Homo sapiens: one gene and its partners. The protein of the gene in region 2 binds, or shares a complex with, the protein of the main gene of each other region. Each region holds a gene or a part of one and is shown on either strand. Other genes may lie near its edges.

What was found.
Region 1: PIGH (region 2) and PIGC share a complex: the UniProt entries of both Homo sapiens proteins name them as parts of the glycosylphosphatidylinositol-N-acetylglucosaminyltransferase (GPI-GnT) complex.
Region 3: PIGH (region 2) and PIGY share a complex: the UniProt entries of both Homo sapiens proteins name them as parts of the glycosylphosphatidylinositol-N-acetylglucosaminyltransferase (GPI-GnT) complex.
Region 4: PIGH (region 2) and PIGQ share a complex: the UniProt entries of both Homo sapiens proteins name them as parts of the glycosylphosphatidylinositol-N-acetylglucosaminyltransferase (GPI-GnT) complex.

The regions. Positions count from the first base shown.
Region 1 is NC_000001.11:172,441,051-172,448,789, reverse strand, and holds PIGC (phosphatidylinositol N-acetylglucosaminyltransferase subunit C), read left to right. Parts: upstream 1-4,720; 5' UTR 4,721-4,802; intron 4,803-5,936; exon of another isoform or gene 5,937-5,959; 5' UTR 5,960-6,167; coding exon 6,168-7,061; 3' UTR 7,062-7,333; downstream 7,334-7,739. Other genes in the region: uncharacterized protein C1orf105, read right to left, coding at 259-349, 3,632-3,717. UniProt on the Homo sapiens protein: Part of the glycosylphosphatidylinositol-N-acetylglucosaminyltransferase (GPI-GnT) complex that catalyzes the transfer of N-acetylglucosamine from UDP-N-acetylglucosamine to phosphatidylinositol and participates in the first step of GPI biosynthesis.
Region 2 is NC_000014.9:67,590,263-67,597,291, forward strand, and holds part of PIGH (phosphatidylinositol N-acetylglucosaminyltransferase subunit H), read right to left. Parts: intron 3,691-7,029; coding exon 3,481-3,690; intron 2,457-3,480; coding exon 2,373-2,456; intron 2,175-2,372; coding exon of another isoform or gene 2,053-2,174; intron 1-2,052. UniProt on the Homo sapiens protein: Part of the glycosylphosphatidylinositol-N-acetylglucosaminyltransferase (GPI-GnT) complex that catalyzes the transfer of N-acetylglucosamine from UDP-N-acetylglucosamine to phosphatidylinositol and participates in the first step of GPI biosynthesis.
Region 3 is NC_000004.12:88,520,762-88,527,835, forward strand, and holds PIGY (phosphatidylinositol N-acetylglucosaminyltransferase subunit Y), read right to left. Parts: upstream 3,016-7,074; 5' UTR 2,940-3,015; coding exon of another isoform or gene 2,737-2,939; intron 1,269-2,736; coding exon of another isoform or gene 1,127-1,268; 5' UTR 1,029-1,126; coding exon 813-1,028; 3' UTR 237-812; downstream 1-236. Other genes in the region: PYURF (protein preY, mitochondrial precursor), read right to left, coding at 1,127-1,268, 2,737-2,939. UniProt on the Homo sapiens protein: Part of the glycosylphosphatidylinositol-N-acetylglucosaminyltransferase (GPI-GnT) complex that catalyzes the transfer of N-acetylglucosamine from UDP-N-acetylglucosamine to phosphatidylinositol and participates in the first step of GPI biosynthesis.
Region 4 is NC_000016.10:579,939-584,609, forward strand, and holds the end of PIGQ (phosphatidylinositol N-acetylglucosaminyltransferase subunit Q), read left to right. Parts: intron 1-244; coding exon 245-325; intron 326-919; coding exon 920-1,034; intron 1,035-2,309; coding exon 2,310-2,371; intron 2,372-2,944; coding exon 2,945-3,097; coding exon of another isoform or gene 3,098-3,696; 3' UTR 3,697-4,171; downstream 4,172-4,671. UniProt on the Homo sapiens protein: Part of the glycosylphosphatidylinositol-N-acetylglucosaminyltransferase (GPI-GnT) complex that catalyzes the transfer of N-acetylglucosamine from UDP-N-acetylglucosamine to phosphatidylinositol and participates in the first step of GPI biosynthesis.

The DNA of each region.
Region 1 (7,739 bases), on a different chromosome or scaffold from region 2:
TCCTCCATACTAATTTTTAGTTTCCTGTTTTGTTGATTCTAACCTTATGCCTGTATTCTTAGTTCTAGTGGACTGGGACCCTAAGGCACTTGAGACATAGTGAGGGGGGTGGGGCCATTCATTTCATTTAACAAATATTTATTGAACATTGATGGTGTACCAAGCACAGGGCTGTGCTAAGGAGATGGGACATGTATTCATATTCTATGTCATTCTAGAACTGCTGTTGGTTTCATTTCAACAAAAATTTTTTAGTACCTTAGATAAAACATCTGGAACTTGAAACAAAATTGGCAAATTCATATTCTTCTTGGATGAAGTCAGAAAAGTCGCAGAGGTATGAGGATATCTAAGTAATTAAAACAAGAGAACGTTAGAACCGCAGTCCCATGTTTGAAGAGCCAGGCCCTTGGTTGTTTCTGAGAGAATACAAGGGACACCACAGGGAGCTATCTTCCACTCCAGTTCTGGAGCACTCAGGCCATTGGGGAGCTCCCAAAAGATGGATTTGCCCTCCTATGTCACTTTGGCTTTTCTGTCCCTTTTGTTTTGCACTAACCAATTTTGGATTGTCAGACACTGTACAAACAAGGCAGGATAAAGATTGTTCACAACAGTAGATGTGTAATGAGCGAAATGAATCCCAGGTTTCCTCTTTGAAAGGGTCTGCACTCAAGTTTTTGATGTTTAACCTGCACCTGTCCCCTTTCGTACCTGGGCTGACTTCTTGGAGTTTGTGTCCTTGCACCCTGAAACAATCCACCTGTTTCCTCCCACAGAATGTCTTCTCCCTTCACCCATTCTTTTCCTTTGGAACATTTTTTCTTTCTAGTTAGCAGTTGAAGCAGTGATGTTGCAAGAACACCAGTTCCTTTTACAGGGTGACCTGCCTGCGCTCTGTCTCACTTGGCACTGTGGTTCATTTCATTACAGTGTAAGGGGCCAAGGCCTGCAGGGGCCTGATAATCATAAACTGTGTGTGTTGCACCATTCATGCCCCTGGCATCCAAGAAATAGAAACTCAGAATGCTGGCAGTTTTGCCGGGAACACACCTCCTCTCTAATGAGGGAAGATTTCATTGTCCATTGTTTATTTAAAACAAAGGCATGTGAAAGGAGTTTGATGCTCATGAGACATTTCTTGCTTCATTTCTCCTCACACTTCCCTGGGCCCTGTAAGACCAGAGATGGTGGGTCTGACATGAGTGCCCTCGGGGTCTTTGTCTTTGATATGGGAATAGGCTCTCTTGGACTTGTCACCCAAATGCTGACCAGCAGAGACCAGGAGGCCAGTTTAGAACTCCTTCAGCATACAATAATCTTATATAAACATGACCTTAGTGTGACTTGAAGGGCTTTGGAGACTGACGATGAGTGTGGCTTTGAAATTGTCAGGCCTACCTGAGAGAGTCCTTGAAGGAAGTGGGTCAGTACAGGCACTTCTTATTACAGCCCAGCCTCACCTCCTCCAACCCTGTAGGTGTGTTTCCATTGCGCACACTTGGAATTACTCTGAGCATATTTGGCTAAATGTTCCTTTATCTTTTTTCAGACTGTTCTGCATTAGAACTCTTTGCTCAAGGGTATGTAATGCTTAAGGCACATTGAGAACTTTCTCCCAAAGTCTCAGTAAGGGGCTTTGCCAAAAATAAACAGCTTGGAACCCGGAGCTTTGGCCCACATGAGGAGCTTTTAATCCTTAAGATCTTTTGATACTTAAACCATCCTTTCAAAAGACTTTTCATTCCCGTCTTGTCCTCCTGAGAGCTCAGGGCACCTCAAAGGTGCTGTTCGGTCACCTTTGTTGTGAGGTAGGTATATTACATTTTTCTAAACAAGAATTAAGATTGCTACCCCAATCCTCCCAGAATAGCGATGAGTAGAGCTTCACTGCCTGCCTAAGGTAATTTCTCCTTGTGCCTAGCTTAGGTTTGGCTGGCTGGAGGAAAAACTGCCCACTCCCTTTCCAGTTGGCTGTCAACAGACTGTCTGCTCTGACCCTCCAGGACCTGGCTATGAAAGTGAACAGGTGCTGCCGATGCCCAGTTGTATTCTAGGCCTACCCTTCTCCCTGATCTCCACCCTCTGCCAAAGGCTTGTGTAATTAGAGACCAAGGGAGCTGGGGGCAAGAGAGCCATGCACAAGGATACTTTGCTCTTCGCTGCTGGGGCAGGTCTAATGGGCATGGGGGTAGTATGGGATGGTGGGATATTACCCTATTAGATCAAACACTAGCAATTTCACATAAAACATCCAGATTTCTAGTACTGTTAGAAGACCCAGTGGATCTGGCCTCTGGACTCACATGCCTGCAGGTAACACTGCTGGCGTGGGGGTGGGCTGAAGCGGGGAGGTGATTTCCCATTCATTGCAGTCCTGTTTGGCCAGCTTTACTCATTATGCCCCTCATCTGACTGTCATGGGCCTGTGAGTTTGTGTCCCACCCTCAATTAAAATATGCTAGACTGTCCTTACTCGTGCTGATCCATGCAGTGTTAACAACTCTTAATAAGCACTCTATCACTTAGTACTTTTGTTTCTTAAATAGGCCTTTGAGTTTATTGAACCTCTGATAATCTGCTTTCGTTATATTCAAAATTATGTAAAAATAACACAACTGAATAACGAGCACTTGAAAGCACTTGTGAATTTTGTTCTGAAAATACTAAAACCGTCTACCTATTTACTGAGAATGAGATTTTTTTTTAATGTACAGTAGACAAAGCAAAGGTACATGTTACTAAAGTGGGGATGTGGAGACAGTGATGGGAATTTGCTTATGAAGTCACTTATCCATGGGCAGGAGGGTACATGGTAGTTATCAACAGGAGGAGAAACTCTTTTTGGGGAGTCTGGCTTTTCTAACGAGCTGTTTCGAATGCCAAGGAGTCATTCCTTTTTAGTCTGTCGTGTGCCTTTGGAATGGCCTCTATGCCTGCCCTTTCTCTTTCTCTCTGCCCTCTTTCTGGTTTCTCTCATTCACCCCAACACTACCTCACACCTACCCTTCTGTCCATGTCCCCTTCCCAGAGTGGGGTTTATCACTACACTTAGGAACCATTTCATCAAAAATGGAGAAGGGACACGGTAACCCAATTATTTCAAGAGACAGTTGAAATGCTCCCTAGATATGTAATTCCTGCAATTTTGAAAAATAGATTTATGTGTCATATAGTAGTTTGTTTGGAAGGAGTAGGACTAACAGGAATGTAGGAGGGTGCCTCAAAGTTACATACAGAGTTACTATTCTATAAAGATGGGAACTTACTGTTCTAGACTTTTGATGGTAAAAATGTGAAAATTTCAGACTACAGCAGTGGAGAAAATGTGGGGTGAGAAAGAGGATGGAAGTGTTTTGAGAGACAGTGTCTAGGGGAAAAATTATCTTATACTGTTGAGTGGTAGTGGTGGAGAGGGAAAAATTTTGAGATCTCATCTCCTCTAGCCAGGCCTATACTCAGTGATCATTTTTTTCTGAGAAACCCGGATTATTTCTATTTTTAAAGCACTTGACTTGAGTTTCTCAATGGATCAAATGTGCCCTCTGATAATTGTCCCCATCCCTTAAGAAGAAATCATCTTCTGTGAGATGTTTCGTAAAACTTTTGCCCTCGGTGGCTGAGAGGTTACCTTCTGGGAAGGCTGAGCACTAATGGCTTGTTTACAAGGCTGGCCTCACTAAGCCAAGGAATCTTGTCAAATTTTGGAACAGAAGCCTAGAGGGAAATAGAGAACATTTTACAGAATATATCACACTTAAACATTGCTATCATTACGATGGCCAAAGTCAGCTAATAGCAGCCATATAGTGAACACTTTACAAACCATTTTTATATTTAACTCTTTAACCATCCTATAAAGTAGCCAAGTGCAAATAATGTCATCTCCATTTTACTGATGAAGAAATCAAAGCTCAGGTAGTGTGATTTGCCTTGAGTCACTGAGCTAGTAAATGGGTCATGTTTTCTGACTTTTATTTCCACTGTATCCTGTGTTTTACTACATCCCTTTGTTTCTTTATTACTTCCTTCTGTTTATATATCCTTTAATATTTCCATGAACTCAGTTTAATTAGCAATCTTGTCCTCACTTCTTTTAGGAGGTAAAGAGGAAAAAAACCAAGCTTTGAAGCTATAGACAACTGGATATTGATCTCTGTTCATCTACTTCCCAGGTGCCTGTCTTTGGACAAATACAACTTATCTGAGCCTTAGATTTGTCCTCTTTGAGGGGGGAGATGATATAATCAGTGTAAAGGTCAATGCACCAAAAAAGAGAGTTTCATGAGAGCAGCAATTTTTGTGTGTTTCATTCACGGCTGTATCATGAGCACCCCAAGCATGGCTTGTTACATGCAGGCATTCAATCAGTATCTGTGGAATGAACGCATGGATGCACGGGAAGTCCCAGCTGAGGGCCTGACTTAATAAAGGAGCGCAACAAAAGCGGCCATTATCTCTCACCTACTGGCCCAGCCTCTTTCCTTGTCCTCTCTTGCCTTACCCAGTCCTTCAGATGGCACATCCCATCTTTCAATAGGGGATTGCTGGGGATTTGCCTTCCTAGGCTCAGAGCATTCGGGTTTGGGCCAGTCTCCAGGAGAGGAGACCGGAGGTCCTTCGAGCAGCCAGGAGGGGGCAGCAGTCACGTCGCGATGGTTCCAGCCGGGGAAGGGTGCCCTCGCTAAGGAGATTGCGGCGGACCCGGAAGTGCTTGGCCACAGTCGCAGCCCCGGCGCCCCGAAGCGGGAAAAAGGCTGGGTGCCGCCGTCCCCCAGCTGCGCAACCCTAGGAACTCTCGGGTAGGTGGGTTCCGTGTAACGGTCAGTGTTTCCGGGGCTCCTTTTCCTCTGCTGCCTCCCGCAGACCCAAGGCTGAGTGAGGGGCGGCGGCGGAAGTGGGAGGCCCACCCAAAAAGCCAAATGGGGTGCCAGAAGAGTGAAGGCGCACCCTGGGGTCACCCTACCCTACCCCGTCCCCTCCCAGCCCCACTCTGCGGGCGGGCGCTGCCCTTTTGGGCGTCGCAGACCCTCCAACCCCGGCGGCGGCCTTAAGATTCCCGGGCTGGGATCCCTGCTGCAGAGGGGGTAACGGTGTCTGGCTTGCCAAGCAATATTTGTTGTGGTCTATCATGGAAGAAATAAAGTCGGGCAATATGAATTTTTTTTTTCTCAAATTTGCCGGATGGCTGTGGTGTTTCTGACTCTTAGTTTTCTCATTGTGAAAAAGGAATGATTATCTTCTTCGATCCTCTCAAGAGTTTCCTTGTTTTGAGTAGATTGATAGCTCTTTAAAGGATGCTAAGCTCAGCTAATGGAAGAAGAGTCTAGTTTCTTTGAGGCTTTGATTTTGGTTAAACTATAGAGCTCATACCTTTCTGTATGGTGCAGCTTACTATTGTCTTTGGATTGGTAACTTAAAAAATACAAATAACATGCCTTTGAGAACCAATAAAAACTATGGATATTATCCCTATAAATTTACACAAATCCAGATATAAGCATGCAATGTGATATACCTAAGGGATATGTGAACCACTGAGTTAAGAACTGCTTTAGAGGGAGATACAATGTGAGACACAGGCTTTGGGATAAGACTTTGGTTTGAATCCTGGCTCTGCTCTGTTACCTTAGGGCAAAGTTACTTAAGCATCTTGAATCTCAGCTTTTTTACCAAAGCAGGACTAATACTAACTTACAAGGTGGTGAGGATTAAGTGAAAGAAGATACATAAGGCACTTAGCACATAGTAGGTACTCAATAAGCGATAGCTAACAGATGTCTATTATTATTCAAGGAATTATAATTTTCAAATCTGAAATGCAGTTTTAATGTCCCATAAGGTGACTACCACATACATTTTTCTCAGACTTTTAGTAAACTGAGTTGATTTGACTTTATCTCAGTACTACTCTTGACCTTTCACAACTTTCGTAGGTTCACAGTCTCTCTTTTTCTAGGAACTTGGCTGTGTTGTCCTGCCTCAGAGACAAATTCATCTATTGTAGGCCTAGCCCCTGCCTTTGAAAACAAGGAAAGGTTGGTAGAACATCAACACAGCATGGAATTTCCAGGGAGGTCTCATTTCAAAACTTCATAAAGAACAAGAACCACCTGGACTTCTGTGAGGGCGATGATTAAACTGGCCTGAGTTTGAATGAAAGGATAATGTATGCTCAACCTGTGACTAACACCAAGGAGGTCAAGTGGCAGAAGGTCTTGTATGAGCGACAGCCCTTTCCTGATAACTATGTGGACCGGCGATTCCTGGAAGAGCTCCGGAAAAACATCCATGCTCGGAAATACCAATATTGGGCTGTGGTATTTGAGTCCAGTGTGGTGATCCAGCAGCTGTGCAGTGTTTGTGTTTTTGTGGTTATCTGGTGGTATATGGATGAGGGTCTTCTGGCCCCCCATTGGCTTTTAGGGACTGGTCTGGCTTCTTCACTGATTGGGTATGTTTTGTTTGATCTCATTGATGGAGGTGAAGGGCGGAAGAAGAGTGGGCAGACCCGGTGGGCTGACCTGAAGAGTGCCCTAGTCTTCATTACTTTCACTTATGGGTTTTCACCAGTGCTGAAGACCCTTACAGAGTCTGTCAGCACTGACACCATCTATGCCATGTCAGTCTTCATGCTGTTAGGCCATCTCATCTTTTTTGACTATGGTGCCAATGCTGCCATTGTATCCAGCACACTATCCTTGAACATGGCCATCTTTGCTTCTGTATGCTTGGCATCACGTCTTCCCCGGTCCCTGCATGCCTTCATCATGGTGACATTTGCCATTCAGATTTTTGCCCTGTGGCCCATGTTGCAGAAGAAACTAAAGGCATGTACTCCCCGGAGCTATGTGGGGGTCACACTGCTTTTTGCATTTTCAGCCGTGGGAGGCCTACTGTCCATTAGTGCTGTGGGAGCCGTACTCTTTGCCCTTCTGCTGATGTCTATCTCATGTCTGTGTCCATTCTACCTCATTCGCTTGCAGCTTTTTAAAGAAAACATTCATGGGCCTTGGGATGAAGCTGAAATCAAGGAAGACTTGTCCAGGTTCCTCAGTTAAATTAGGACATCCATTACATTATTAAAGCAAGCTGATAGATTAGCCTCCTAACTAGTATAGAACTTAAAGACAGAGTTCCATTCTGGAAGCAGCATGTCATTGTGGTAAGAGAATAGAGATCAAAACCAAAAAAAATGAACCAAAGGCTTGGGTGGTGAGGGTGCTTATCCTTTCTGTTATTTTGTAGATGAAAAAACTTTCTGGGGACCTCTTGAATTACATGCTGTAACATATGAAGTGATGTGGTTTCTATTAAAAAAATAACACATCCATCAAGTTGTCTCATGATTTTTCCATAAACAGGAGGCAGACAGAGGGGCATGAAGAGTGAAGTAAGTGTGTGTGTGTGTGTGTGTGTGTGTGTGTGTGTGTGTGTAAAGTCACTTCTTTCTACCCTTTTCAATGTGCTAATGCTCTTTTATTTATCTAGGGCTCAAATCTTAGAACACAGGGTGCTATGCTCAGTTTTGTTGCCCAAGATCACAGAATTGGTTACTTAACCTTGACTCAGAGTTTCTACCTTGTTCTTAGGGAAGCATATCACAACTAATTGCAAAGCAGAGTGTGATGTGTCACAATAAGCAGAATGCTAGGGGGAATTCAGAAGCTGGAGATAAATTTCAGCTGGAATAATTAGGAAATAAGAGAGGCGGTGACATTTAAGCTTAGTCTTGGAGG
Region 2 (7,029 bases):
TTTTTTTTGAGACAGAGTTTTGCTCTGTTGCCCAGGCTGGAGTGCAGTGGCGCAATCTCGGCTCACTGCAACCTCCGCCTCCCAGGTTCAAGTGATTCTCCTGCTTCAGCCTCCCGAGTAGCTGGGATTACAGGTGCTCGCCACCACGCCCAGTGGCACAATCTCGGCTCACTGAAACCTCTGCATCCCGGGTTCAAATGATTCTTGTGCCTCAGCCTCCCAAGTAGCTAGGACTACAGGCACGAACCACCATGCCCAACTAATTTTTGTATTTTTAGTAGAGACAGGGTTTCACCATGTTGGCCAGGCTGCTCTTGAACTCCTGGCCTTAAGTGATCTGCCCACCTCGGCTTCCCAAAGTGCTGGGATTACAGGCTTGAGCCATGGTGCCGGGACCACATGCAACTTCAATCTCTCACCCACATCAAGGGGTATAAATGACACAGCAGTGAGCTCATGGAGTTAAGAAGTTTAGGCCTCAGCACACCTTGCTGGAAAGAGTCCCAGCTAGGCTTACAGCACAGCTTGTGAACTATGCGAGGTGGGAGATCAAATGATAGCTTTTTAATCTGTCTAAATTTCATGAACTCCATCTCTAAGAATAAGCAAGAGGAAAAACAAAATGGACCCTTGAGAAATGTCACAAGTTGTAAAACAGCCCTCAAACACAAGAAGTGCAGTTTAATATGTAAATATTGAAAAATGTTTTACACAATGAAATGTAATAACCAAAATTAAAAGAAAAGCCACAGAATGGAAAAAATATATGTGAAAGTATATTTAATAAAAGTGCACTACCTAAAATATATAAAGAATTGTTAAAAATATATAAAAATAGATACAAATACATAATATTCAGATTCTACTTGACTAATAGAGAAGATAGGTAGTTTAAAGTAAGAGGAAATACTGATAGGTAATACAAGGAAATATGAAAAGCCTATCATTTAAAGAGATACAAATTTAATGCCTTTACCTACATATTAAGCTAAAAAAGCTAAATCCACTATTAGCCAGGATGGTAGAAAAAGAAGTACAAAATCCCCAAAGTATGATAAAGTTGTCCAATCTCTGGAGCCCGATCTTAAACACTAGAAATCTATAAAACTATTCATAAGCTTTAATAAAATAATTTTGAATTACAATGCAAAATAATTTTTGGCTTATCTTAAATCCTTTGTGAAAAAGGTCAGTGAGGCAGGGTTAACTGTATACATAAATACATGCATAAATACCTACCTCTAAATTTATTATTTTGTAATTTATTATGTTTGTATAATTTTTGTTTTTTGAGATGGGGTCTCTTGTCACCCAGGCTGAATACAGTGCCATGATCAAAGCTCACTGCAGCCTTGACCTCCTGGGCTCAAGCAATCCTCCCACCTCAGCTTCCCCAGTAGCTGGGACCACAGATGTGCACCACCATGCTCAGCTAATTTTGGTATTTTTTGTAGAGATGGGGGTTTTACCATGTTGCCCAGGCTGGTCTCGAACTCCTGAGCTCAAGTGATCTGCCTGCCTCAGCCTCCCCCACAGTGTTGGGATTACAGGCATGAGCCACTGCACCAGCTGATAAGTGTTTTTTTTTTTTTGTAAGAGCAAAACAAAAAAACCCAGGCATGATTTTAAAAGCTGGCAAGAGTGGCTAAATAAACTGATATTTCAATATATTATACAATTATTTAAAATAATAAATATAATGGCCTTTGTAGGATACATACATATTAAATTATTTACAAAGCAAGACACACAATAGTGTACAATGTAAGATCAATTACCTCTATCTAAAAAAAGTGTACAGTAGTAGACTGACAGAGTCAAAGTAGATGAATGGTGATTTATAGGCAGAAGTTGCTATATATTTGATTGTGTTCTTTAAAATGTGCATGAGGCCAGGTATGCTGGCTCATGCTTGTAATCCCAACACTTTGGGAGGCTGAGGCAGGAGAATTGCTTGAACTCAGGAGTTCAAGATCAGCCTAGGCAACATGGCAAGACCTCATCTCTACTAAAAATAAAAAAAAAAAATTAGCCAGGCGAGATGGTGCACACCTGTAGTCCCAAGTTCTCAGGAGGCTGAGGCAGGAGGATTTCTTGAGCCTGGGAGGTGGAGGCTGCAATGAGTGGTGATTGTCACTGCACTCCAGCCTAGGTGACAAAGTGAGACTCTGTCTCTAAAATAAAATAAAATGTGCATGAATATTTTTAAGGAATACATTTGCCTCAGAGAGGAACTTCTCAAATAACTGAAATCCTAATTATCACTCAAAACAGCTGTCAGGTATCTTCCAATACTCTGACAAAAGGAATTTACATTCCTAATGAAAAGGTTGAGGAGTAATTGGAGAATGGTAAAAGTATTCTATGCTCACCTGGAAGACGGGTACTACTTGGGATATCCCATGTGGTTCCACTGGATCTTTCAATAAGATGCAGAGGTAGTAAATCACCTTCTGCTGTAAGAAAATAAATCAAATAGCAAAGTCTAAGTGAAACTCATTTTGCATTCTTTTTTTCTTTTTCCTTTATTTATTTATTTTTGAGACAGAGTCTCTCTCTGTTGCCCAAGCTGCAGTGCAGTGGCGCAATCTCGGCTCACTGCAACCTCTACCTCCCAGGTTCAAGCGATTCTCCTGCCTCAGCCTCCCAAGTAGCTGGGATTACAGGCGCTCGCCACCATGCCCGGCTAATTTTTTGTATTTTTAGTAGAGATGGGGTTTCACCATGTTGGTCAGGCTGGTCTGGAACTCCCGACCTTAGGTGATCCGCCTGCCTTGGCCTCCCAAAGTGCTGGGATTACAGGCGTGAGCCACCACACCTGGCCACATTCTATTTTTCTAAGGGAAGGCTCAACACTTTTTCACAAATGTTTAAGTAGTAGAACACTTGATAGCTTTTGAAGTGGAAGAAAAGTATATTCTCATTCTTTAAATGAAAAAAGACAGGGCCAGGCGTAGTGGCTCAAACCTGTAAACTGAACACTTGGGGAGGCCACAGCAGGAGGATGGCTTGAGCCCAGGAATTCAAGACCAGCCTAGGCAACATAGTGAGACTGCATCTCTGCAAAACATAGAAAAAACGAGCCAAGCATGGTGGTGCATGCCTGTAGTCCCAGCTACTCAGGAGGCTGAGGTGGGAGAATGGCTTGAGCCTGGGAAGTTGAGGCTGCAGTGAGCTGTGATCGAGCCACTGCACTCCAGCCTGGGCAACAGAGTGAGACCCTGTCTCAAAAAAAAAAAAAGAAAAAAGATAGAAAGAGAAGGAAAAAATGCCAGTGATAATTTTGAAGTTGGTCTTGAAGATAAAGTTGAAATGCTAATTCCCTATCCATGAAAACCTGCTGCATCTCTTTAAAAATAAAGAGATTTACCTTTTAAATATAAGTCTCACTTTTACGGTTTTAGTTTAAATCTGGGAACATCCCATGGGCTGGCTACCTCCTCCAGAGAGGCCTGTAATACTTACCTTTTAAATACTTACCATGTAAATGGCCTCATTGATGACAATATCCTTGACCTTGCCCATTTCTATGAAGGTAGTGCTTTCTTTGCCTGAAGCATAAGATGAAGTCATCTGAATGCCAAGGGAATCAATGATTAACAGAGTCTCCTGATCAATCTTCACAAAATGGAGATAACCAAGCAGACCTAAGAGGGTGATGAAGATGGCAGCAGAGAGGATCATGCTGTTCTGAAGAGAGAGCCAGACACAGACAGTAAGATTACCAAGTGGTACCAGTCAACTCCAGGCAATGAGGGGAACATGCATGGAGGAAAAGGAAATTGCTTTTATTTGGGTTCTAAGGTGCTATGAAAGTATACAGTGAAACAGATCCAGACAACAAATGGATAGGTCTAGGGGAAACCTCCATCAGCAAAATGTCCATCACAGCAATCTCAGAAATTTTTCTTCCAAAATTCCAACTTTAGGGCCTAAATCAGCTGAACGCAGTAGCTTGCACCTGTAATTCCAGCTACTAGGGAGGCTGAGGCAGGAGGATCGTTTGAGCCCAGGAGTTCGAGGCTGCAGTGAGCTATGATCATAGAACTGCACTCTAGCTTGGGTACCAGCATAAGACACTGTCTCTAAAAATCGAAAGGACCCAGCCGAGTGAGGTGGCTCACGCCTGTACTCCTAGCACTTTGGGAGGCCAAGGCAGGTGGATCACAAGGTCAAGAGATCGAGACCATCCTGGCCAACATGGTGAAACCCCATCACTACTAAAAATACAAAAAGTAGCTGGGCGTGTTGGCACGTGCCTCTAGTCCCAGCTACTCTGGAGGCTGAGGCAGGAGAATCGCTTGAACCTGGGAGGCGGAGGCGGAGGTTGCAGTGAGCCGAGATCGCACCACTGCACTCCAGCCTGATGACAGAGTGAGACATCTCAAAAAAAAAAAGGACCCCAAATCTTTTCCTTTCACACTCCCTCAGCAGAATACAGGAGGGAGTTATGTCCTGATAAACCCATTATAAGATGAAAATGCATTTAATATTTAGTTCTAGCACTCAAATAAAAAATTAAAATTAAAAAATGCATTTAATATACCTATCAAGCATCAGAGCTTAGCCTAGCCTACCTTAAACGTGCTCAGAACACTTACATTAGGCCGGGCGCGGTGGCTCACGCCTGTAATCCCAGCACTTTGGGAGGCCGAGGCGGGCGGATCACGAGGTCAGGAGATCGAGACCACGGTGAAACCCCGTCTCTACTAAAAATACTAAAAGTTAGCCGGGCGTAGTGGCAGGCACCTGTAGTCCCAGCTACTCGGGAGGCTGAGGCAGGAGAATGGCGTGAACCCAGGAGGTGGAGCTTGCAGTGAGCCGAGATCGCGCCACTGCACTCCAGCCTGGGTGACAGAGCGAGACTCCGTCTAAAAAAAATAAAAATAAAAAAAATAAAAAAGAACACTTACATTAGCCTACAGTTGGGCAAATCATGTAACATAAAATCTGATTTTACAGTAACGTGTGGTAAATCTCATATAATTTATTCAATGCTATACTTAAAGTGAAAAACAATGTTTGTATGGGTACTTGAAGTACCGTTCCTACTTGAAGTACCGTTCCTACTGACTTTGTATTGTTTCCGCATCATCCTAAAGTCAAAAAAATCCTAAGTCAAACCATCGTAAGTTGGGAACCATCTGTATATAGTGCAAAATCATAGACTGAACAATTATAAAGTGCTTAGCACAGTGTAGCAGATACTATGGCTTGCCTAATAAACAGCCACCCACCAGCCCCAATTGAACAGTGAGTGAACCATGATTGGTTCCCACTCCTTCTGCCAATGACTGCTTTAAAAATTGGCATGTGACACAACTCTGGCCAATGAAATGTGAGGGGAGATCTGCTGGAGGGGCTTCTGGAAAACTTGAGTTTATCTTTAAAAATCTGCAGAAGAGACGTTCCCTTCATCATGAGGTTTAGATACCTGGAACTACTATGGCCTCTGCCAGACCCAGTGGAGAGCTAGTAGAGGACAACTAGAGGACGCTAAGGGTGGAAGTGCAGTTTCTGCACTTGGAGGACCAGGTGGAGGACAAGTAGGGCACACTAAGGGTGTCAGCAGTAAGATGACAAGAGCCGGAATCAAATGAGTCTCCACGTGAACTCTGGAGCCCTCCTACCTTATGACTTCTTGTTAATATAAAAGGTCCTTATCTCTTAAGGCTATTTTAGTTGTTCTGTGTTACTTACAGTTGACTAAGTGATGTGTTAAGGGCTCAAAAAATGGTGTCTATTATTTATTCCCTTGATTCTAAGACCAATGTATAATCTTTAACATTTCTGAAGTTAAAATGTGTTTTCCTATTGGTGTGTGTTTCTTTCATGTGGCATTGTTTTATCTTTTTTCCCAGAAGCTTGCATTCATTCATTGATTCGAGACAGAATTTCACTCGTTTCCCTGGCTGGAGTGCAATGGTGTGATCTCGGTTCACTGCAACCTCCACCTCCCGGGTTCAAGTGATTCTCCTGCCTCAGCCTCCCTAGTAGCTGGGATTACAGGCACCCGCCACCACGCCCAGCTAATTTTTTTTTTTTTTTTTTTTTTTTTAGTAGAGATGGGGTTTCACTATGTTGGCCTGGCTGGTCTCGAACTCCTGACCTCAGGCAATCCACCCGCCTCAGCCTCCCAAAGTGCTGGGATTCCAGGTGTGAGCCACCGCACCCGGCAAAGCTATGATTTAGAAGACTGGCACAGGAAAAAAATTATTGATGACCTAGAATCAAAGAAATTTTGTAATTTTGGACTGCATTCCTTGAGGGCAGGAAGTGTCTTATTATTCTTTGCACTGACAAGATGCCCTCCTTTATCTACTTCTAGTCAGGTTCCTCTAAGCTGTCTAGGCCCTGACCTTGACATCTTTGTTGGGCCTGCACTACCCACCCAATTGTAGCAAGAATCTTGCTGAATCAGTTTAGAAAGAACTCCCACCCTTGGTATTTGATCAGCCTGGCATGCCTTCAGCAAGAATCCTGTCAAGTCAATTTAGCCAGAATCCCACCTTGCCCCTGATGTTTCCTTTGGGTAATTTTCCATCCACTGACTCCCACCTTGCTCCTTGGCTATAAATCTCCACTTGTCCATGCTATATTCGGAACTGAGGAAATTTGGAAGTCTATACTGAAGTCTCTTTTCCCCTACTGTAATAGTTCCTGAATAACATCTGGTTTTTGTACCACTTCAACTACTCACTAGCTCTGGTTTTCTTTGATGGTCTCTTTCTACTTTTTCATAGTTAACCCATAGTGTTAGATCAGGGATCTGTAAACTATTTGGGCCTGTGGTCTGGTTTTGTCTGGCCCATCTCAAGCAAAGAATGATTTTTAAGTTTTTACAGGGTTGTAGAAAGAAAGAAAAGAATATTATGAGACAGACCCCACAGAACCTGCTATATTTACTATCTAGTCTTTTAATGAAAATGTTTGGGCCAGGCATGGTGGCTCATGCCTATAATCCCAACACTTTGGGAGGCCAACATGGGGGGATCGCTTGAGGCCAGGAGTTCAAGACCAGCCTGGGCA
Region 3 (7,074 bases), on a different chromosome or scaffold from region 2:
TGTTATTCGGCATCCTGGGAAAATAAACTGAAATGTGGCTCAAATATGGCTCTAAGCTCAACAGGGTACAATCCACTACTTGCAAGTCTTCCCACCCCTCACTTTCCCAGGAAATGATTCTGTTTTGGGTATTAAGTACCTCTCTAAACACAACTACATTTAGTGCAGTTTTACAACTTCCCTTAGTATCATTAACACTTCTGTGACCAAACAAACAAACGACTACTGCAAACTGGTTTATTTTTTATAGGAAAGTGTCAACATGTTTATTGCTAATATAAGCATTTAATGTCAAAGAAATGAAGGTAATTTTACAAACTCAGTTTTTGTAAGTACATGAAGTTTCTATTTGATTATGTGGTTTTATATCACATTCGTTCAAATGCATTTCTCTCCCTTAGAGGGACTATTCCAACATCACTCCTTTGGAATTATTTCAGTCATCCTTAACATGTGACTTTACCAAAGACCTTGAAGCTAAACAAACAAGCAAAACAAAATTTCAATGACTCTTAGATGAATGGAATAAGAAATAGTCATCACATGTCAATTAGGGATGTTCATCTCCAACCAAGACACTGTCAAAATGTTTCTTCTGATACAGCAGTTATAAGTCAGAGCCTTCAAAAAACAAGGGCAGAACAAGAGTACAATAAAAGAAGCATCTGCAACTTAAGCCTCCCACAGTCCTAAGCCTGATATGCGCAAAGCAAAGCCTCTTTCCCGCAAACTAAATTCCATCCATTTGAGCTTTCAGAGATCGATGCCCAAGAGCTATCATTAATATATACAGCATATTGACTCTAGTTGCATCAATTATGCCTGAAGAGTTTAATACCCATCCAAGTCCAAAGGTGGAAGAATACATACACTGGTATGGTAATAGGCAAGAGCAGGCTGTAAAAGCAAAGGCTGGCTGTGCTAGTGCAGCCCTGTGGGAAGTTTTCTTCCACAGAGGCTGAGTAGAACAGTCCTGCTAAAGAAACCAGTGGAATAAGAACAGTCAACGTAGGAAGAGACAGAAACATTCTTCTCTTCCACTTATTACCTGCCACTGTGTTTTAAAAGGTATATGGTATTAAGAAAAGTTGGCTGTTGCGTTTTTTTAATTTTTTTAAATTATGAACTAGCGCTGCTCCACTTCTTCTTGCTTCTTACTTTGACGTGTCATCCTAGCTGCCTGTGGTATCATATTAGGGATCCCATCAATGATTGGATAAGCTATTCCCAACTCTTCATTAATCAATTCGTTTGTTGATGCTTCATATCTGAGGTGGAAAAAAAAAGAACAAAATGAGTTGTGGGAAAATAAAATGCTTGAAGAGCCTGATTTTCAACAAATACCACCATTTATCCAATTTTTGGTACGGAGTTAATCCCAGAATAGTCTTCTTTAATTCTAAAAGCAACAATAGCCAATTCAACCTTTTATCTTAGAAAAATTCTCTTACAATCTATAATTATTCCCATTTTAGTAGTTTCTCTCATATTCTCTTTTTCACCTTATTCACAAGTTATTCCTTAATTTTTTTTCATACTAGTCAGAAAAGATCCCCCTCTCTTATCCAAATATTCCTTCATTACTTTGGTCAACCCCCAAACCATCCCTGTTAATTTACTACTGGAATAAACACTAGAGAAAAATCAACTTCTTCATTTTAGAATAAATGCTAAGTAGAGAAACTTAACTAATCCATTAGAAGGAAATCACTGGAAAAGGTGAGAGGGCAGAAATGAAGAAACTTTCGAAAGCACTAAGTCTGCAGTGAGCTAGTTATAAACGTAAATCAAATGATAATTTCAAGGTTCGAGAAAATTGAATAATATGTTTATTACGGGAAAAAGAAATACGAAAAATTGCTAGCAATCTACCATTCAAAGATAACCACTGATAACATTTTGGTGTTTATGCGATTTGTAATACTAGCGTTAGTGTTGTCAATATTCAATTTTGGTAGCTTGGAAACTGTAGAGCTGTCTTCCCAAAAACTAGTTAAAGAGGCTTCTACGAAACCTGCTAGGCCACAACTAAGAGCCACTGGGCAGCAAACACAGCTGAATTGCTTAAGATTGTCAGGCACCAGTTGTACAAGACACTTTCACAAGAATCTGGAGGGTACAACAATACTTTTCATTATCTTGGCTTAAAAACCGGAAGGCTTCGGACTTGTCCTGAATCGCAGTGGTTCATAAACCTGGTGGTACATTAGAAATCATTTAGGGACCGTTTAAGAACACAGATAAGCTGGGCGTGGGGGCGGCGCCTGTCTCTCGACTCCTGAGGAGGCTGAGGCGGGAGTTCTAGGCCAGTCTGGGCAACGTAGGGGGCACCCTGTCTCTTAAAAGGAAAAAAAAAAAGGAAAAGAAAATACAAATGTTCAGGTCCCATCCCGCGAGCATTCCAAGTCTGCCCGTCTTGGGGGCTGTCGGGGAATCGGCATTTTTAAAACGGTCCCCGGGTGATTGCAATGCGCAGCCGGTCGCGAACCCTAAAACGCTTCGAGCCATTCCCGCAGGCTGGCGTTGCGTTCTGGGAGATGTGGGACGCAGCTCCCCTGGCCTCCGGTCTCCCCCGTCCTGCCCGCTGTGCGCCCGGCGAGGACAGAGTCCAGAATGTGGCAGCGGAGAGTACCTGACCGACCTACAAGGCCCCAGTGGCTGCAAGAGGCCGCGGTCCACCGCTCCCTTTCCGCCCACCGGGAGGCTGCAAAGGAAGGGCCAAGGCCAGCGAGTTACCTGAGCGGCTTCTTGGAGAGCGGGCACACCAGGAACTCCAGCAGCGCCGGATCGAAGTCGCGGGGCGGCTCCTCAGTCTTCTTGCCCCGGTCGGCCAAAGGCCGCGACCCCGACGCGTGCAGGCACCTACGGGCGACCGCGGACGGCGGCGCGCGCGTTCCCCGCAGCGCTGAGGCGAGCCTGCAGCGTGCTCCACTCAGCATGGTCTGGCAGCCGGAGACCAGGCCTCACCGCAGCCTCGCCACCCGTGGCCGAGCTCCCGGCTTCCCGTTCGTCCAGGCCAGCCGGGCAGGCCCCGCCCCCTGGTCCTCCAGGAAACGCTGCCGAGGAGTAGGCGGGGCGGGCGCTTTGGTTCCGAGGGTGCTTCTGCTCCGACTGCTTTTCCCACGGGCGTCATCTATAGTCCGGAGGACAGCCCCAGGGCAGAGGCCTCTGGTGAGTGCCCCGCCGCCTTACCAGACTACAAACTAAACCAGTGTTTAAGTCAAGGTGTCTGGGTTTTCACCGGGGCCTGTCCAAGGATGCTAGGAAGCCAGTGGCCAGGCCTCAGAGTTGTAGGGAGTTAGGCTTGGACCTACGTGGTTACCTCCAAGTGAAGTTTCAAACACACTGTTATGTATTGTACCGAATGTATTGTCATGGATGTATTGAAAGCGCTCATTTGTTTCATGTACATCTTTACTATACCATTAGTTTCTGTAACCTTGTTTGGCTTTTTTCTCTCTCATTAAAAAAAGTGAGAACCTGGAAGGAAGGGCCTAGGCCTCTGACCCTCCAAAATATATAAATTCTTCCTGCCTGAGACCCAGTCATTGTGAAGTATTTGCGTAATAAAGCACAGCTAATTTACTTCTATAAATGAGCTTGGAGGCCGCAAGGGGCCTAAATAGCTGTGTAACAGGCAGATGTGATCTGCCTGTTAAAGATCCATTCAATGAGTGGGTGATCCATTCAGTGAATTTGTATCCCAGGTTTGCTTCCCACTCTCCAAGAAAGTGACCATGTTAGATCTCTTTCTTACAGTGTAGTAGATGGGAACTTGGGCTCTGGGGCCTGACAGCTTGGTTCCCTGTCCACAATTAGTAGCTGGATGACTTTGGCAAATGACTTAACTGCTCATTTTCCTTATCTGTATAAGACTAATAATTGTACCTACCTTGTAGGTAGGGCATAAATGTGATTGTGCATTCGAAGAACATTTAGAAAAGTGCCTGGCACAAATTAATGCTCCATTAATGTTGTCTATTTTTATTTTTAGTTCATCTAGTTTTTCCATGTCCGAAGACTCAAAGATTCTCATTAGTCATCCATTTTTTCCCTCCGTTCTGCTGAATATCAACCTGAACTTTTTTTTTGCATCACTGGGCATTATCATTTCACACTTTGAGTTCCTGGAGCTGGAAGTACAGAATCCAAAAATATGTTTATATTTTCAAATTTCTCTTCCACTCCAATGTAAAAATAAACTGACAAATGTTTATATGTTCATCCTAATTTTTTGTTTGTTTTTTGGGCCATCCTGTTTTTTTTAAAAAAAACAGTTTATTTTTTGATGTTCTTTGTTCACTAATGCTCAGAAGATTTTCTAAGGTTAATGTAGTTTATAGGATACCAAAAAGGAAACACTTCTACTGGATAGATATTTAAGAGATAATGAAAGTCTCTGGTTGCCTCACCTTCCTTCCCTCACAAAGCAATCTTTCACAGTCATAACTTTCCGTTATTAGAGTTACTAACGGACTAGAGAATAGGGCAGTTATCGGGACATACCCTCAAGGGAAACTACTGTAAAGTTCCTATGTCACCTTCACACTATTTCCGACTAGGGCAGTAGCAGGAATTAATTTTTCAGTTGAAGTCAGTTGATACTTTGGGCTCAAGGGAAGGGGTGAGCTGTAGGAAAGATAAGTTTCTGCTTAAGGAGAAACAGCGCTTGACTTCTGCAAGCGCTGAGTGGGCCCAACCCTTGGCGCTTGTTGGGTAGGGGAAGGCACCCATGCTTAAGCCTCAGCTAGCTTGGCTGACAGATCTCTATCAACTGGGTTTTCTAACCAGTTATAAATAAATTAGTTTCAGTTTGCCTCCACATAGAGGGTTTGAGGCAGTTCAGTTTACTTTATTTAGGGGAAGAATAGAGAGTAACAGCAAAGTATTGAAAACATCCTCAAATTTATAACACCAGAAATCAACAACCAATATTTAAGGAACATATGAATGTATGACTATCACCATGTGTGTATTAAGTTGCAACATATCAAAGCAATATGTCCCTAAATAGCCCTTAGTAATGAAGAAATACAATTCATTTCTGCCTGTAGTATACTAAGCTAAATGTAGATGATAGGATAGGATCATGGGACTGGAACTGGTCTTTTAAAAGTTAGTCCCTTTTCACTATTCACATGACTGACCTTTCGTGTCACATAGGCCTGTGCACAATAACCTGATGGTTTCTGGGCTCAGATACAATATAGCTGTGTGATCTTGGAGAAGCTACTTAAGTTCTCACCCTCAACCTTCTCACTTGTGAAATACAATAATAATAGTATGTAACTTACAGTGTTTGAACAGACTAAATAAAACAATTCAAGTAAAACAGCACAGGGGCTAACACATTTAAAGAATGTTTAGCAATAAAATTATTTATTATGGTGAAACTAGTAAACATTCTGATGGAAAGGGAAAGCACAAGGTACTTCTGGGACACTCTTTTTAACTGAAATGGAATTTTTCTAATTTCCAATATGGATACTATTGAAACACAATTCTTGGATTATCACACACATGAAGTTAGAAATCTCTAGGCAGAAGAGGGGCTGGACTATGTATTTTAACAGAGCCTGTCAATTCCAAATTTGGGGGCATTGAAATTTGTGAACCTGCAATCCAAAGAAATGAGTCAAAATAAATTTTCCACTAGATGGCATCATTTAGTATTTGAACTAACATTTATCTCTGCTTGATCTTTTCTTTCTGTGATTACAAAGACTTACTTTCATTTTGCCAATTGTTTCTTAGTTTGACAACACTTATTTTTTATTTTTATTTTATTTTCTTGAGACAGATTCTCTCTGTGTCATCCAGGCTGGAGTACAGTGGTGCAGTCGTGACTCACTGCAGCCTTGACCTCCCAGACTCAAGCAATCCTGGCATGTCAGCCTCCAGGTAGCTGGGAATACAGGTGCATGCCACCACACCCAGCTAATTTTTGTATTTTTTGTAGAGATGGTGTTTCATGTTGCCCAGGCTGGTCTGGAACTCCTGAGCTCAAGCAGTCCACCCACCTTGGCCTCCCAAAGTGCTAGGATTACAGGCATAAGCCACTGTGCCCAGCCCAACATTTATTTTAAAAACAAAAATCATAAAAGTCCTATTAATAAATTTTAATGATGAGTTTATTAAAATCAAGTTTCCAATAGATAAATGGACAAAATATTTGAAAAGAAAAATTCGCAAAAAAGAAAATACAGTTGGTCAATAAACATATTAAAAAATTATCCTCAATAGTAAAGTAGTAATGCTAGTTTCAAACATCAAAGGAGTTTTGAAATAACTCTAGACATGAATGTTACCAGCCTTGTTTTGGCCATCTGAAGGATAATCACAAATTCTGTCTGAAGGGCTGAGGACTAGTGCCTGCAAAAGGACCAGAATATCCCAGCATGGGCACAAGTAGCTTGAAATTATGGAAGTATGTCCTGTCTTTCTTTCTTTTCTTTCTTTCTTTCTTACTCTCTCTCACTTTCTCTCTTTCTTTCTTTTTTTTTTTTTTGAGACAGGATCTTGCTCTATCTCCCAGGCTGGAGTGCAGTGGCTCCATCATAGCTGACTGCAGCCTTCACCTTCTGAGCTCAAACAATCCTCCCACCTCAGCTTCCTGAGTAGCTGGGACCATAGGCACACACATGCACCACCACACCTGGCTAATTTCTAAAATTTTTTTTGTAAAGTCAGGGTCTCACTATGTTGCCCAGGCTGGTCTTGAACTCCTGGGCTCAAGTGATCCTCCCGCCTCAGCCTCCCAAAGTCCTGGGATTACAGGCGTGAGCTACCACGCACAGCCCAACTTGCTCTTTTGGTTCTGTGGCTGCTGCAGTTATGGGGATGTACCCGCTGATCCACAACAGTTTGGGAGTGCTCTTCCATAAGCTCCCCTCCCTCATGCCGGGCAATGTGCTTGTCATCGTGGTCTCCATTATCACGGTGGTTGCCTTCCTGGGCTGCATAGGTTCTGTCAAGAAAAACAGGTGCCTGCTTATGTCCTTGTTCATTCTGCTGCCGGTTATCCTCCTTGCTGAGGTGATCTTGGCCATCCTGCACTTTGTTTACGAACGGAAG
Region 4 (4,671 bases), on a different chromosome or scaffold from region 2:
TGTGTGGCCACGCACCGTCTTGGGTGGTCTGGCCCCCACCTGTCTCCCTGCGAGTCCCCTAGTCCGTGGGGTGTGGGTGGACAGCCCTCCTGCTACTGGGACTGCTTCTGAGCAGGCCATCCCGAGTTCCCTCAGGAAGCCGCAAGGTCCCGACTGCAGCTCCGGGATGGGGGAGGGCACAGTGCTGGGCCGTCCCTGGGCGCGGGGTCCTGCTGATGCCCGGTGTGCTGGCCCCTCCCTACAGCTGTTCATCGGGACTCTGCTCTTCACCATCCTGCTCTTCCTCCTGCCTACCACAGCCCTGTACTACCTGGTGTTCACCCTGGTGAGCTGAGCACCCACAGGCTGGGCCTGGCTGCAGTGCTCTGTGTGGCTTCTGCCAGCGCTGCCTGGGAGCAGTCAGCTGTGGGGCGGGCTGTCTCCTGCTGCAGGCCACGTGGGTGGCCTTTCAGGACCCTCTGGGCAGTGAGTGCTGCGCTCTGGAGTGGGCGAGGCCCTATCCTGGCCAGTAAGACACCCTCACTGCCCTGGAGCACGCAGCTGGGTGCGTGGTGGAAGGACCCCACGGCAGGTGGGGTCACGCAAGAGGCCTCCCCTGGTGCCTGGCACTGGGGCAGACAGTGGGAGGTGAGCAGAACCACCTCCAGCACCTGCTTGATTCCCAGGCCTCGATCCCCTCTGCATGTGAGGCTGTGGGGAGGCACCTCTGACCTGGTGAGAGGGCCGGGTGCTCCGCCTCCAGCTTTGCTCCAGAGCAAGGCCCAATGGCAGACTCCGTGCCCTGCTCAGGGTGGGGTCCCTGCTCTCCCCAGGACCCTGCAGCCTCTGGGCCCCCTTCATCGTGGCCCAGGATGGGGTCGGACTGCTCTGCCCCCAGGCGCGTCTGGCCGGGCCGGTCCTAAATGCTCCTCTGCCACAGCTCCGGCTCCTGGTGGTCGCCGTGCAGGGCCTGATCCATCTGCTCGTGGACCTCATCAACTCCCTGCCGCTGTACTCACTGGGTCTTCGGCTCTGCCGGCCCTACAGGCTGGCGGGTAAGTGCTGCGTATTGGGCAGCTGGCCCTGGGTAGGTGGAGGGGAACCACACCTGTGGGCCCTGCAGAAGCAAGGACAGCATGGGCCACTGTGCCTCCAGCCTGGAAGCCGTGGTATGCATGCGCAAGCGGGCAGGGAGGACAGGGCCTCCTAGTCCCAGAGGTCTGCAGGACCAGCTGCCTCCAGGGAGGTGGAGAGAGACTCAGAGACTCACCTGCCGCGCAGGTTCAGAACCCTGGAGACCTGAGGCCACAGGCCTTTGTTCTTCTGCCTTGGGATTTTCTGGGCTTGGGAGTCTGAACTGCAGGCCAGGGGCCAAGCGCGGCAAAGTCAGAGGCACTAGGAGCCAGCAGGGCGGCCACCATCCAGTAAGTGCCCCGTCCGCTGTGCCGGAAAACCCCGTCCACTCAACAGCACAGCCTGCGCCCGTCCCTCACTGGGGCTCTTCCCTGCTTGCCGGACACCTGGCTTCTTTCAGTGGAGTCTGCAGGAGGCTTTTTTTTTTTTGAGACGGAGTCTCACTTTGTCGCCCAGGCTGGAGTGCAATGGCGCAATCTCGGCTCACTGTAATCTCTGCCTCCTGGGTTCAAGCGATTCTCCTGCCTCAGCCTCCCGAGTAGCTAGGATTACAGGTGTGTGCCACCACGCCCAGCTAATTTTTTGTATTTTAGTAGAGATGGGGGTTTCACCATTTTGGCCACGCTGGTCTCGAACTCCTGACCTCGTGATCCTCCCACCTCAGCCTCCCAAAGTGCTGGGATTACAGGCACGAGCCACCGTGCCCGGCTTTTTTTTTTTTTTTTTTTTGAGATGGAGTCTTGCTCTTTTTGCCCAGGCTGGAGTGCAATGGTGTGATCTCAGCTCACTGCAACCTTCGCCTCCCTGGTTGAAGCGATTCTCCTGCCTCAGCCTCCCAAGTAGCTGAGATTACAGGCACACGCCATCACACCCGGCTAATTTTTGTATTTTTAGTACGTATGGGGTTTCACCATGTTGGCCAGGCTGGTCTTGAACTCCTGACCTCATGATCCGCCCACCTCCCAAAATGCTGGGATTACAGGCGTGAGCCACCGTGCCTGGCTGCAGGAGGCTTTGATGCCGGCCTGGCAGCCAGCTCCAGGAGTTGGGCGACGGAGGGGGCGGGGAGAGCTTCGTGGGTGGCCACGGCCAGCAGCACCCGGGTGCCCCTCAGAGAGGAAGGTACCTGCAGCCTCTGCTCATGTGTGGGGCCAGCCCCCACGCGTCCCCTCGTCAGCCGCTTGCTATCCTTGCAGCTGGCGTGAAGTTCCGTGTCCTCCGGCACGAGGCCGGCAGGCCCCTCCGCCTCCTGATGCAGGTGAGGCCCCTTGTGGCCAGGACGCCCCTACGCTGCTGCCCCTGTTCTGGGACGGTGGGGTCAGCTGGGTGTAGTGTCTGGGTGGCACCACGCCAGCCTGCGATGAGGTACAGGGAGGGCCCAGTGGAGCTGAGGGGGAAGGCCCACGCGGGACCCCCTCCCCCTTACCCCCAGGGCCTGAGGACACTGGTGTGGTCCTGTGGATGGGGCCCATTCTGCCCTGTGTCGGAGGCGCCCTTGGCTGGCTGGGGCTGCCCTGGGCCCCACAGGGCTCAAGTTCTGGGTGGAACAGAACCGACTGAGTGAGTCCTGGGGTGGGGTGTGCGTCCCTGTGGCACGGCCCCTCAGAGTTGGGCAGCCCCGAGGGGAGATGCAGCTTCTGCCTCCCCCCAGCGCTCCCTTCTGGCTGCAGGCTCACTTGCCTCCTTGGGAACTGGGACTGGCTTCTCCCACAGGCAAGGGAATGTCTGAGACAGCACTGGCCCTGCCTCACAACTGCCCGCCCCCACCCTCTCTCTGCAGACGGGGTTGGAGCTCAGACCACCCCACTGACCGCTGCCCTTGTCCTTCCAGATAAACCCACTGCCCTACAGCCGCGTGGTGCACACCTACCGCCTCCCCAGCTGTGGCTGCCACCCCAAGCACTCCTGGGGCGCCCTGTGCCGCAAGCTGTTCCTTGGGGAGCTCATCTACCCCTGGAGGCAGAGAGGGGACAAGCAGGACTGAGGGAACTGCTGGCTCGCCTGGCACCACCACACGGCCACAGCCAGCCATCTGCTCTGCCAGGGTGGCACCAGCTCAGCTGGCGCATGTCCTGTGCTTTGTGGACGCTGCTGTGTGCTCCTGAACACGGCAGGCCCTGCTATCACACCTTGGGCTTGGAGGTCATTGGGAGTGAGCAGATGTGGGGGTGGCCAGCCAGGCTGGCCGCACTCCATCACTGGCACTGCCTGCCTTGGGACCCGCTTCCCACCTGCTGCGGTCACCATGGTGGCGAGCACAGCAACCCCAGGTGTCCAGAGCACTGCCCCATGCCCACCCTGTGTACCCAGGTCCAGAGGGTCCGTCCACCACAGCAGCCCCAGGTGGAGGGCTGGTCTCCCTGGGGGCTCCCCAGTGGCTCTGCCCTGGCTGTGGGGGTGGAGGGACCTTGCCAGGATGAACCCCCCAGTCCCAGGCACCCTCTAGCTCCCTCAGCCGAACAGCACCCTGCATCTGGGGGATTGAAGCAGTCGCTGACCCCCGTCCCCAGCGGGCCCGGGCCCTCACTCCCTGAACCACACGGGGTTTATTTGCGGATGTTCCCTGGAGAGGTCGCTTTGTGAAGAAACCATCAGCAGGCTGTGAGCATCGCCAGGCTGCTGTGGGGGCGGGAGCAGCCTCAGTGTCAAGGGCCCGCCCACTGACCCAGCCGTACCTATTCGTCCACGGTGCCCCGTAGCAGCAGGTCCTGCGGCCAAATCTGTCTCCCTTCATGGGCCTCCCAGGGAAGGAGGAAGCCCTGCTGTGCAGACACCTCTGTGGCCCCCCAGGAGTGTGAGTGGCCTGGGGAGGGGGCCGTGGCACTGAGGCCGAAAGTGCCTGCCAGACGGCACGGTCTGGGTGCGGGTGTTCCCTGTGAGCCCGAGTCCGCTTCAGGAGGGGAGCCTGCAGGTGCCGGCTGGTGAGGGGATGACGCGCTGTGGGTGGGAGGAGGCAGCGCCCATCTCAGCAGCACCAGGACTGCCTGGGACTCCCTGGCAACCCAGCACCGGGGAAGCCGTCAGCTGCTGTGACAATAAAACCTGCCCCGTGTCTGGAGCGCAGGCTCGGTCCCGGGTCCATGTGCAGCGCGGGTCCAGGGAAGCTCTGGGGGGGGGGTGTGTGGACGCTACTCGAGGGACTTGGGCTGCCTCACGTGGGTCTGCCCTGCAGAGTCTACACCGGCCTCCTGCTGGAGGCCCTGACGACGGCTGATGGGACGGGCTCACAGGCCCTGGGCCCTTGAGGACTTTGGTGTAGGCAGGTGAACCCGGGCCGCCCACCCTGGGGGCCGCCCACCCTGGGGTCGTGGCCTTGCCTCGACATAGATGGTGCAGGGGTGTAGGCCTCCAGGGGTGGGGCGAGCAGCTCCTGCTCTGAATCTGTGGACTCCATGTGGGGTGGGCCCCTCGTGGGTCCTGGCCCAGTACAGCCTGCGACTGCCACAGCTGCTAAGAATGGTCTCTGTCGCCTGCAGTGCTGGGGGCCCAGCTGGCGGGCCCCACAGCCCGTTCCCAGCCCGAAGTGTACAGGCCTCCATCCAACCTGGACTTCCAGGC